Linked DNA regions of Homo sapiens: region 1 is linked to region 2. Evidence: fine-mapped expression QTL. A gene starts in region 2. The other region holds a variant in brackets. All regions are shown on one strand. Distances are from middle to middle. Region 1 overlaps VPS37A (VPS37A subunit of ESCRT-I). Region 2 holds the start of VPS37A (VPS37A subunit of ESCRT-I).

The links. PIP is the estimated chance that this variant, and not a neighbour inherited with it, causes the effect.
Region 1: its variant is the best candidate, but not a certain one, in a credible set for the expression of VPS37A in NK cells (Gilchrist 2021, PIP 0.88).

Annotation. Positions count from the first base shown.
Region 1 is chr8:17,270,386-17,275,385 of GRCh38, reverse strand. VPS37A (VPS37A subunit of ESCRT-I) reads right to left here. Exons shown (of 12, transcript NM_152415.3): 5 at 428-653. Among named protein-coding and RNA genes, the nearest start is that of VPS37A, 26 kb to the right of the region's middle. The variant A/GAA (reference allele first, on the strand shown) is at 2,528.
Region 2 is chr8:17,243,437-17,248,874 of GRCh38, reverse strand. It overlaps VPS37A (VPS37A subunit of ESCRT-I), which reads right to left and starts at 1,917. Exons shown (of 12, transcript NM_152415.3): 1 at 1,506-1,917. The coding sequence starts at 1,630. It overlaps CNOT7 (CCR4-NOT transcription complex subunit 7), which reads left to right and starts at 2,018. Exons shown (of 7, transcript NM_013354.7): 1 at 2,018-2,200; 2 at 3,628-3,839. The coding sequence starts at 3,723. RefSeq lists an enhancer at 1,421-2,269.

The DNA.
Region 1 (5,000 bases), 27 kb before region 2:
TTAATAATGATCTTTCAAAATCTGGCCTCAAGCATAAATGCATGCATTTGTTTAGCTGCCTCATTTTTAAAGAGTACCCACTATATTCATCAGTATATTTGAGGCACTAAGAAAGTGGTGAAAAAAACCAGAATCACATTTTTTGTAAAGGCGATCTACTAGTTCTACCTTGGTCCCTAGGAGCACTGACCATTCCCCTAACTGTGTCTCTACCAAAACTCTGTCCCTTCTACTACACTAGAATTAGAAGCTCCATATTTAAAATTATTATTTGTTGGTTACCTGTTACTTGAATTGAAAAATGTGAGTTCATCTTTTCATATTTTGTGTCTAACTTATTATCTGGCACACAGAGGCATGTAATAAAGGTGTGTGGATTGAATGAATGTTTCAGTGGCACAAAATATAGATAACTGACGATACCAACCGGTATTGAAGCATCCACTGTGGGAATGGGTAATGGCAGATTTGAAAGGACACCAAATGAAGGAGCGGCAGGCTTGGCTGTGGTATGACTTGTTGTTGAAGAAGAAACAGTGTCAGCAACAGATAAAGAAGTGATACTCCTGTTTGCTTCTTGTGGAGGATATGGAGGAAGAAATGGAAAACCCTGAGAAGCATAAGGAGACATCCCACTTGGGTTACTGTATAGACTGAAAAGAAAAAGAGAAGATCATTACATTAGATTTTATGGATAAAACATGTCAAATTGTTTCTAAATTGTTCTAAATAACAAAGGTCAAGTACTATATAGATGAAATGTTATAATGGCAGGTGATATTTATTAAATTATATAATGGAATTAAATATTATATAAAGTGGTAAAATATGACCCCACCCCCCCGAAAAAAAAGAATTGTAGAATTGTGGTTTCTACAAAGAAGATGATGGGTGCTTTAGAAAGCATGCAATTCAACTGGACGGAGTAGAAGTGGATAGACAGGCCATTTTTGAGTTTTCAGCACTCCACTGCTATCAATCAGTATCTCCATAGAGGGAATGCAGAGCAATATTTAATCCAGGACATTTATTCAAGTAGAGGCTAACAGCTTTCTCTGTATTTGTCAAAATCTGACTGAAAGTCAAGACTGCTTTTCTAGAAAATTTCGAAGTAAAATTAAGTATGCAGATGAGCTTCTAAAATGTTGAAATATTAAAAACAGATGCATATATAAACACGCATGTATATTAGAGTCACACAGCATTATGTACTTTGGATTCAATCACAGAACAATATAGTCAGTATTTATTTTTGCAAGATAACAAATATTTTACATTTAACATTTTTTCCCCTTAGCAAATTTTAGAGAGAACCAGATCATTATATTACTCTAAAAAGCATTAGAGTAATTCAGACCTAGATGCAGACTGAGAATCATCTAAATACAATATATGAATAATACAGTGAGTTTATATGGATCAGGCACTCTAGTGTAAAGGATAAGGGACTTACAGTTATGTTTTAAATATTAATGTAATGCTACTAAAATGCTTCCCTTTACATTGAAAAATGTTTCAAAATGTATTAATTTTTTATGAGAGTACTATTATTTCATTTAATGACATAACCTGAGTTGGAAATTTTGTGGGAAGAAAACATTTTTTTTAAATGTATACGAATGACACTAAAATGTATATGGAAAAATAAGCCACAGTAGAAAGAAAAAAAGCCTGAAAAAGGAAGGTACAGAAATATTAGTCCTTTGATAAAGCAAAACAAATTATAAAACCCTAATACACGCCTGTAATCCTAGCACTTTGGGAGGCTGAGGCAGGTGGATCATGAGGTCAGGGGATCGAGACCATCCTGGCTAACACGGTGAAACCCCGTCTCTACTAAAAATACAAAAAATTAGCTGGGCGTAGTGGTGGGCGCCTGTAGTCCCAGCTACTCGGGAGGCTGAGGCAGGAGGATGGCATGAACCCGGGAGGCCGAGCTTGCAGTGAGCCGAGATTGCGCCACTGCACTCCAGCCTGGGGAAAATAGGGATTGTATAGGAACAGAAACTGGTACAACTACTCTGGAGGGCAATTTTGCAGCATTTGTCAAAACTACAAATGTGCATTACACTTCTAGAATTTATCCAACAAATAAGCTCACATTTGGGTAAAATATTATTTTAAAGATTATTTACTGGAGCAGCACTGACGGCAATGAAGTAGGATGGGCTTTTGAGGGAGGGTTAGAAAACATGAAAATATCTGTCAGGCTTGCTAAAGACATTATAATACACCCATAAAACAAATACTTTGTGGCTATAAGGAATAATGAGGAAGTGCCTTAGTACTAACATGAAAAACTTTCCAAAACCATATCATTTAGTGACCCCCTCCACCAAAAAAAAAAAAAAAAAAAAAAAAAGGAAGGGCAAAATATGCTACCATTCATATAAAAAAGGGGGAAAATACAATACTATATATATTTTCTTGTAGATGAATAAAACAGCTCAGGAATTATATATACACAAACCCAAACAAATAACTTTAGATGCTAATGAGGAAAAAAAATTAAGCTGCAAGGGAAAAA[A/GAA]GTGACACGGAGATTTTCACTCTATACTCCTTTATACTTTTTGAATTTTGAGCCAGGTGAATATATGACCCCTAGAAAAAATTAAGTTTTCTAATCAGCTTGTTCATTTCAAACGATGGCTCATCTTTATCTTAAAATTTATCTGAAGGAATTAGTGATATGTATGTGAATATAACAAGCTATTTAGAAACAATAAAACCAACATGAGAGAGTATTTGTAATATCTTTGAATTTAAATCAATAATTCTGACCCAATCTGCTTTATTTTGAACTCAGTAGCAGGTACAACCCACAAAATAATCTAAGAAATGCATCAAACTTGATTTTTAATAATGGTACTATATCCCCGAACTTATCTGAAATGAAAACAAGTAAACTTGTCGGTTTGTATTTTCAAATAAGGTAAATGAGTTTATATCCAGCCCTATTACTACAGAAGATAGAGGTATGGGTTTTGAATACATTTTTTATCTGAAAATAAGGACTCAGGACTCTAGAACATAGAAAACAGGAAGAAAAAGATGAGGGGGAGAGGGCTGAAGTACCTGGAAGTGGAATGCTGCTATGACAACAACAACAACAAAAATCTAAAGTGTGGGAGTAGCTTTGGGACCAAGCAGAGCTATAGGCTGGAAGTCCCCTCAGAAGATTATGAAGGTCTAATGGGCCTCAAAGAGGCTGTTAGGAGGAGCCTGGTGGGCCTTTGAGCAGATGGTCACCGGAAGGAGAACTTTTTATTAGTGGAAAGTTTACCAATACTGCTGCATGCAATAATATGGAAAACAGAAAATGTACCTAGTGAATTGGATGATCTAGCTAAGGAGATTTCCAGGCAGTGCGGATGGTGCCACCTGATTTCTAGCTGGCTGTAGTAAAATGTGAGAAGAGAGAGAAATTAAAGAACTGCTAAATATGAAAGATGAGATTTCCTGGATTTGAAAATAAATTTATCTCTCATTCCTAGCTTCCCTAAGATTCTCAAATTAAGAAACACCTCTAAAAGCAAAGTTCAAACCCAGCATGGGCTAGAAGATCCTTTGTTAACACCTCTGGAAGAGCCAAGGCAGAGCCTCAGAGTGCTGTCGAGTAAGAAAAACAGCCACTTAGGGCTTCAAAGAATCTTAAAGACATTGTCTCTCAGCAGCCTCACTGGAAGCCCAACAGCTTATTTGGAGGAGCTTAGTGGGTGTTGCTTTTGTTTAATGAAATGAATGAAAAAGGATTCATAAGAAATCATAAGCATTTTTTTTTTTGAGACGGAGTCTTGCTCTGTCACCCAGGCTGGAATGCAGTGGCGTGATCTCGGCTCACTGCAAGCTCTTCCTCCCGGGTTCACGCCATTCTCCTGCCTCAGCCTTCCGAGTAGCTGGGACTACAGGTGCCCACCACCATGCCCAGCTAACTTTTTTGTATTTTTAGTAGAGACGAGGTTTCACCGTGTTAGCCAGGATGGTCTCGATCTCCTGACCTCGTGATCCGCCTGCCTCGGCCTCCCAAAGTGCTGGGATTACAGGCGTGAGCCACCGCGCCCAGCCAATCATAAGCATGTTAAAGGAATTGTGTCATCTTGGGTCTACAAGGGACAGAGAAAGTACCAAATGAAAAAGAGGCTAACAGACCCTTAATTTCTACAGGCAGGAAGCAGGCTGAAAAAACTATGCACTTGGAAACAAGGGCTACATTTTACAGAAAGGAATTATGACACAGAAGGCAGAACCAAGAAACGAAAATTACTCTATGAAGAATCATTTCCATTAACTAAGTCTTAATAAAAAAAACAATGTGCCCAGTTGGATTTCAGTACTGTTATGAACCAGTGGCTCCTGTGTGCTTCCTACTTCCTCTCTTTTGGAATCTATAGTGGTTACCCGAGGCTTGTTCTACCATTGTACAGTGGGTGTGTGAGGGGCAGCTACCTTGTCTCTTTAATTCCGTTGTCTTCAGATCAAGAGGAATTGTTCTTCAGGAACACAAGTGAGAAACCTCATCTGTACTTGAATCTGATTTAGATGAAAGAACACAAGCCTGATTCTACAATATGATGAACTCTGCAAGTTCTTGGGGAAAGGGGAGTGTGCCTATTCACCTATAGGAAAGAGGTGAATTCTTACGGCTAGGAGGAAGAATGTGACCGACTTTATATTCCAAAATGGCCACAACCAGATTTCCAGTCCCATATGAACTTCTTGAACTTTGCTACCCCATCGAGAAATGAAGTCTACTTTCCCTCCCCTTTCAATCTGGGTGGATCTAGGTGACTAACTTTAGAAAATGCAGCAGAAATGATGCTGAATAACATTCAGGACTAAACCAAAAAAGATAATACAGCTTCCACTTGGTTGGAATGCTCTCTCTCTTGGGATCCTGACCCTCAGATCTCACCCCTGCCACGCAGTGAGGAAGCGCAGGTCACATGGAGATGCCACATATAGATGTATCAGCACTGAAGTCTAACCATTAAGCCAACATTAAC
Region 2 (5,438 bases):
TTAATTTTCCAGAATGAAAGCCACCAATAACAGCCTGCCATTCTTTTCTGTTAAACAGCATAAAATTTCACCTTTTGAAAGTTCTGAACAAACAGAACAATTGAGACAACGAACCAAGAAACACCTAAAGTTCAGTCAGCATCAGGCCTTATTTTAGCCAAACTGATTTTGCAGTAAATTTTTCTATTAACTAGACTATTTAATTAAAAATTATTCCATTTTAAATAAGAATTATTCGATATTATCTGAGGATACATATTTTTTAACTGTATGAAAATAATATTTTTAAAAGGGCTAGGAGCCCGGCGAGGTGGCTTATTCCTGTAATCCCAGCACTTTGGGAGGCCGAAGCGGGTGGATAATCTAAGGTCAGGAGTTCGAGACCAGCCTGACCAATGTGGTGAAACCCCGTCTCTACTAAAAATACAAAATATTAGCCGCGCATGGTGGCGCGCACCTGTAATCCCAGCTACTCGGAGGGGTGTGGGGAGCTGAGGGAGGATGATTGCTTGAATCCGGGAGACGGAGGTTGCAGTGAACCGAGATCGCGCCACTGCGCTCCAGCCTGGGCAACAGGAGAGCCGTACCCCCGGCAAAAAAAAAAAAAAAAAAAGGGGTTAGGGACTTAACAATGTTGTCATCTTTATTTAAAATAGTGTGAAACTGTTAAGTAAATATACTTGCAAAATGCATAAAATATAAAGAAGCAGTTCTAATTTTTGAAAACCATTAGAGACCATAGACATTTGCAATGTAAAAGGCTGCAGCAAACCAATTTACAGTAAAAGTTGAAATAATATGAATTGTAAAAATATTTCTAAACTGACCATGATAAAATGAAAAACTCACAGGAAGACAACAGAACAATCAAGATGAACATAAAGTAATTCTTGAGCGTGGGGACAAGACTATGAAAGAAGTGAGAAATGTACATGCACTGGTCGCTGTGAGATGGGGAGAGACTGCTCCAACAGGGTAAATCTTAGAGACTCAAGAAGACTGACTACGTGATAAGTGACTCTCAGACGAGAAGCATTCACTGATGAAAACTCTGGCTTCCCTTTCCTTTGATGTTGCAACAGTTCTATTTTCCATTCTTTGTGAAACCTGGAGATTACTCTTCACAATTGTATTTTAACAATTCTGCTGACGCGGCAATCAGGTGGGCAAAGGGAAAGATCAGTGGCGAAGCCTGGGCAGCAAGGGATACTGGAAATAGACTATGAGAGAGATTGAGAGATTACAGTCAGCAGCTATGTGTCAGGAGGGATGAGGAAATCCGAGTTAGAAGCGCTGAGCAGTGGTGCGGCAGGAGGCAGGGAGGGTCCGGAGGAAAACAGTAAAAGGGGGCAGGAGTGGCAGAGCAAGCGTGTGACCCACAACCAAGGGAGGTAAACCACATGAGGAGCTGGTGGGGAGCAGACTGAGGCGCTGTGAGGGTGGTTAGGACAAGCCCGCCCTCCCACCCTACTTTTTCCTCCGGTGGAGAGGCAGCGACCAGTCACCTGGAGTGTGAGTTCCGGAGGGACTCGATCAGGCGCTGCTTCTGCTGCTGGAGGCTGGTGAGGCCACCGGGGGACCCAGCCGCGGAGGAGGAGGCGCTCTTGGTCAGGGGAAAAAGCCAGCTCATCCTCCTCGGGTCCACGGGCCGGAGGCCCTGGAAGGCTCTGGCCTGCTTCTCCCAGTGGCTCGGCCCGGCGGTTCTCCAGCGACAGAGGAGCGGGGTGGGACGTCCGTGGCCCAAGCGCTGGGGACCGCGTCTTCTCTAAGCCTGTCCTGCCTGCGCTCCCCGAGTTCTGGGGGACATGCTACGAACGGCGGGCGGCTGGAGAGGGAAACTTGCGGCCCGGAACAGGAGGTCCCACCTTCACGGCCCAGACGCCCAAACCGGCCAGCCAGGGAGCCTGGCCGCCCAGCGCTCCACCACCCGCGCCGCCGTCACTTGCGTGCCCCGCCCCCGGGGGCGCTCTCCGCCCCCTCTGCGTGTCGCGTCATCATCTAGCGCCCCCGTCAGGACGTGCGAAAAGCGACGGCGCAGCACGGTGCGGCGCAGCTCCTGCTCGCCTTTCCCTTCGCTGGGCGAGAGGTGTCTATGGGGCACCCGCTGCCGCCGCCGCTACCGCCACCGCCACCGCCACCGCCGCCGAGTGCTGTCTCTATGGCGAGGAGGAGGAGGAGGAGCGCGAGCTCAGCGACACAAGTAGATCTTGCATCCGCTGCAGCCTTACGGGGGGAGGGGCGGGTTAGGGAAGTAGAAAGGGGGCGGGGACGATGAACCTGAGAGGGTGCGCGATGGCGCCAGCTGGAGTGCGGCTGGCGGAGGAAGGAGCCTGGCGGCGGGTTGGGGGCTGGGTAACTGGGGCTGGGGGTTTGTCAAGGGGTTGGCGCGTAGTGATGACGCAAAGGCTTTGTACCTGGGGCTTCGCAGTGGGACGGAAATTGGGAGTGGAGGGCGGTGGCCTAGATCCTCACCTCTTCGTATTGTTTCACGCGGCAGTGCTTGGGAGTCAGTGTAGCTCCAGTCAGTGTTATCAGCACCTTCGCACTGGCGCTTTGCCAGGGAAGAGAGTTATCTATGGCTTGAATACCTCGGTGCCGTCCTCTCGTTTCTCTGGGAAACTGCAGTACGGAGATGCTTTCTCCAGTAATGAGAAGGCCTTTGGTGTCTCTTCGGGGCTTCTGGGACTGCAGTAGAGAGAGAGGTGGAGGAAAACAATGTTAGACTACAGGGTCTTTCCAAGTCTTTGTGTTTTTGTGCTTATGTGTGTGTGTGTGCCTATCGGGGTGGGAGAGTTATAAAGGAGGGGTGTCCTGGATCTCCTTTAGTTTCTCTACTTGGAGAATTGGAAGTTACATTTGTGACTCTTCAGAGTTTAGAAGACAGTCATAAGACCCTCTTTTTACTCTTGTTTTTTTTTTTTCCAATTTGTATGAAAAATGCAGAAGGATTTGAAATTTCCCTGCCCAAGAATCAACAGGAACTCTGTTTATAGACCAGAAATGTGACATCTATCTTTGGTAACCATGCAATATGCTCTAAGTTTTAGACGTTCTATTGTGTTCTTTTTCCGTTCTGCAACTGCGAACATTCAGATAATTTTCATGGCCGTTACTTTTTTCTCAGAGCATTTACAAACATTTTTGACCCCTCTAGTCTAGTTAGAATAAACGCCGGTAAAGTAGATCTTGTTATCAAGTCGGATTTTGGTTGTTTTATTAATGAGGAATAAAAATAAACACCATCTTTGCCATGGTAACATCTGATCTTGTCACATGTAAATAAGTAATTTTTCATTTTTTGTCTGGAAATGGATGGCTTTATAAAGTTTTATGCAGAGTAGTTGAACTCAGATAAATAATTAGTGGAAAGTTATAAAATATGATTAGTATGTATGTGTAAAAAAGCTATTTTAAAATAACTGAAATTAGGACCAGGAAATCTGTACTGTAGTCCTTTTTTTCCTATAGACTAGCTGTGTGACCTTAAGTTACTTTCTAAACTTTGATTTTTTTTTTTTATGAGTCAAGAACTTTGAATAAATAACTTCTTAGGTTCCTGCTGGATCAATTATTCTGTGATTCAGATTTGATATATCTGGTCTTCATATTGTTTTTTTATTTTGACAGGTACATAAATAAAGGATAAAATATTTTATGAAACAAATCTTCAATCAAGTATAACATTTTGATGCTTGGCATCTAGACTCCCTTGTGCCCTCACTATGCCAGCGGCAACTGTAGATCATAGCCAAAGAATTTGTGAAGTTTGGGCTTGCAACTTGGATGAAGAGATGAAGAAAATTCGTCAAGTTATCCGAAAATATAATTACGTTGCTATGGTATGCCCACAAGCAGATCTTTAAAACGCTTCATATAAAGGAGGAAAAGGAAATTTTAAAGTCTTGAATTCAACCCTTTTGGTTGATATTTTTAGGGATTAATTTCACCATGAAAAGTAAAATTTGTCACTGCCCTCCAGCCAAAATCCATCAGGAATACACCTGTGATTTGACAGGTTGGGTTTATCCCTCATTGCAGTGAGGGAAAACGCACTGGAATTCATGGGAACCATGGGCCGTTTGAATAAGAGTTAGGAAGGATTTGGGCTCGTGTCAGGTGGTCTTAGGGGAAGGTAAGGGAAGCAGAGCTTTACTGTGGATTGGATGTGTTCGGGAAGCTGGGGTAATTCTGTGATTGGGTATCTTACTAAGTCTTAAATGAGAGACTAGAATGAGGTTAAAGCTGCAGAGAAGGAACAGTCATTCATTTAGCCAGGATGGAGATACTTGGTCATTTTGTGGTTTGACATTTTTATTTTTTTGTCCTTGTTCAGACATGATTACAGAGTGGCCTTATTTGAGGTTGAACTTTTGTGAAATTGTGTTCAACAGGAGAACATTAGGGCGTGGCTATGAGTGCCAGGTCTGCTCCTAGCAACACCAAAGCCTAGCTGGTAGTACCACATGAGCTCCCAGAAGCTAGGGTGCTCTTTCTCAAACAAAAAAATCAGATGTGCCAGTGAAACGTTGTTGGTCTGCAATTTGTTTTCATAATTAACACTGGAGTTCTGTGAATATACTGTGTTACTAAGCAACTCTGCTTTTGCACGTGCTGTTTGGTCTGCCTAGATTGTCTATCCAGTTAATGATTTTTCTTCTTTACCATTATACTGTCTATATCTGTTAGCTACCCTACTGTTTTCTACATCCACTGGATTATTATTAGCTCCATAAACCAAGTGTTTTAATCCTTTCTCTCCCAACACCTAGCATAACACATATAGTATTCAATAAAGTGGCTGTTGAATTGCACTGAATTTAGAGAAATATTGATTTCTTTACTATTTCATAGTGACTTGATAGGTAGTTTTTATTCTTAGCTAGCCCTAGTTTGAATTCTAATACTAAACCGATGTATCTTTGTCTCAGTATTTTTAATAAAAATAAACAAATGCATTACTTTGGGGAGGAGCAAGTTGATTGGTTAAAATATGACTGTTTCTTTGTAGATGACATACTATTTGATAAAGGTGTACTTACCCATGATTAGAACTAAAATTGTTTTCTTAACCAATGGAAATTCATAGTGATCATTGATTTCTCAGATGATAAAGAGTGGCAACATAGAGAAGTGATAACATCCTACAAGAGTGAGTAGGTGGCATGCAATTCTTGACAGCATGCTTTCTGTGGACTATAGAGAGAATATTGTTTAAGCCAGAGAAATTAGGAAGCTAATGATGTTTTTCTTAGGGTTTTGGTGTTGAGAAAAACCTTGTGTCAGAGAAGCAATTGGAAAGTACAGGGCGTTTTCCCCTCTTTTGAACCAGTTCTTCAAGAAACTTGGTTTTAGCATTGGAATACTGTGAGCATCATTTCATGTATCCTTTGGGAGACAGGAATTTATGATTTTCCCCCCTTTCTTGGTTATAGAGTAAG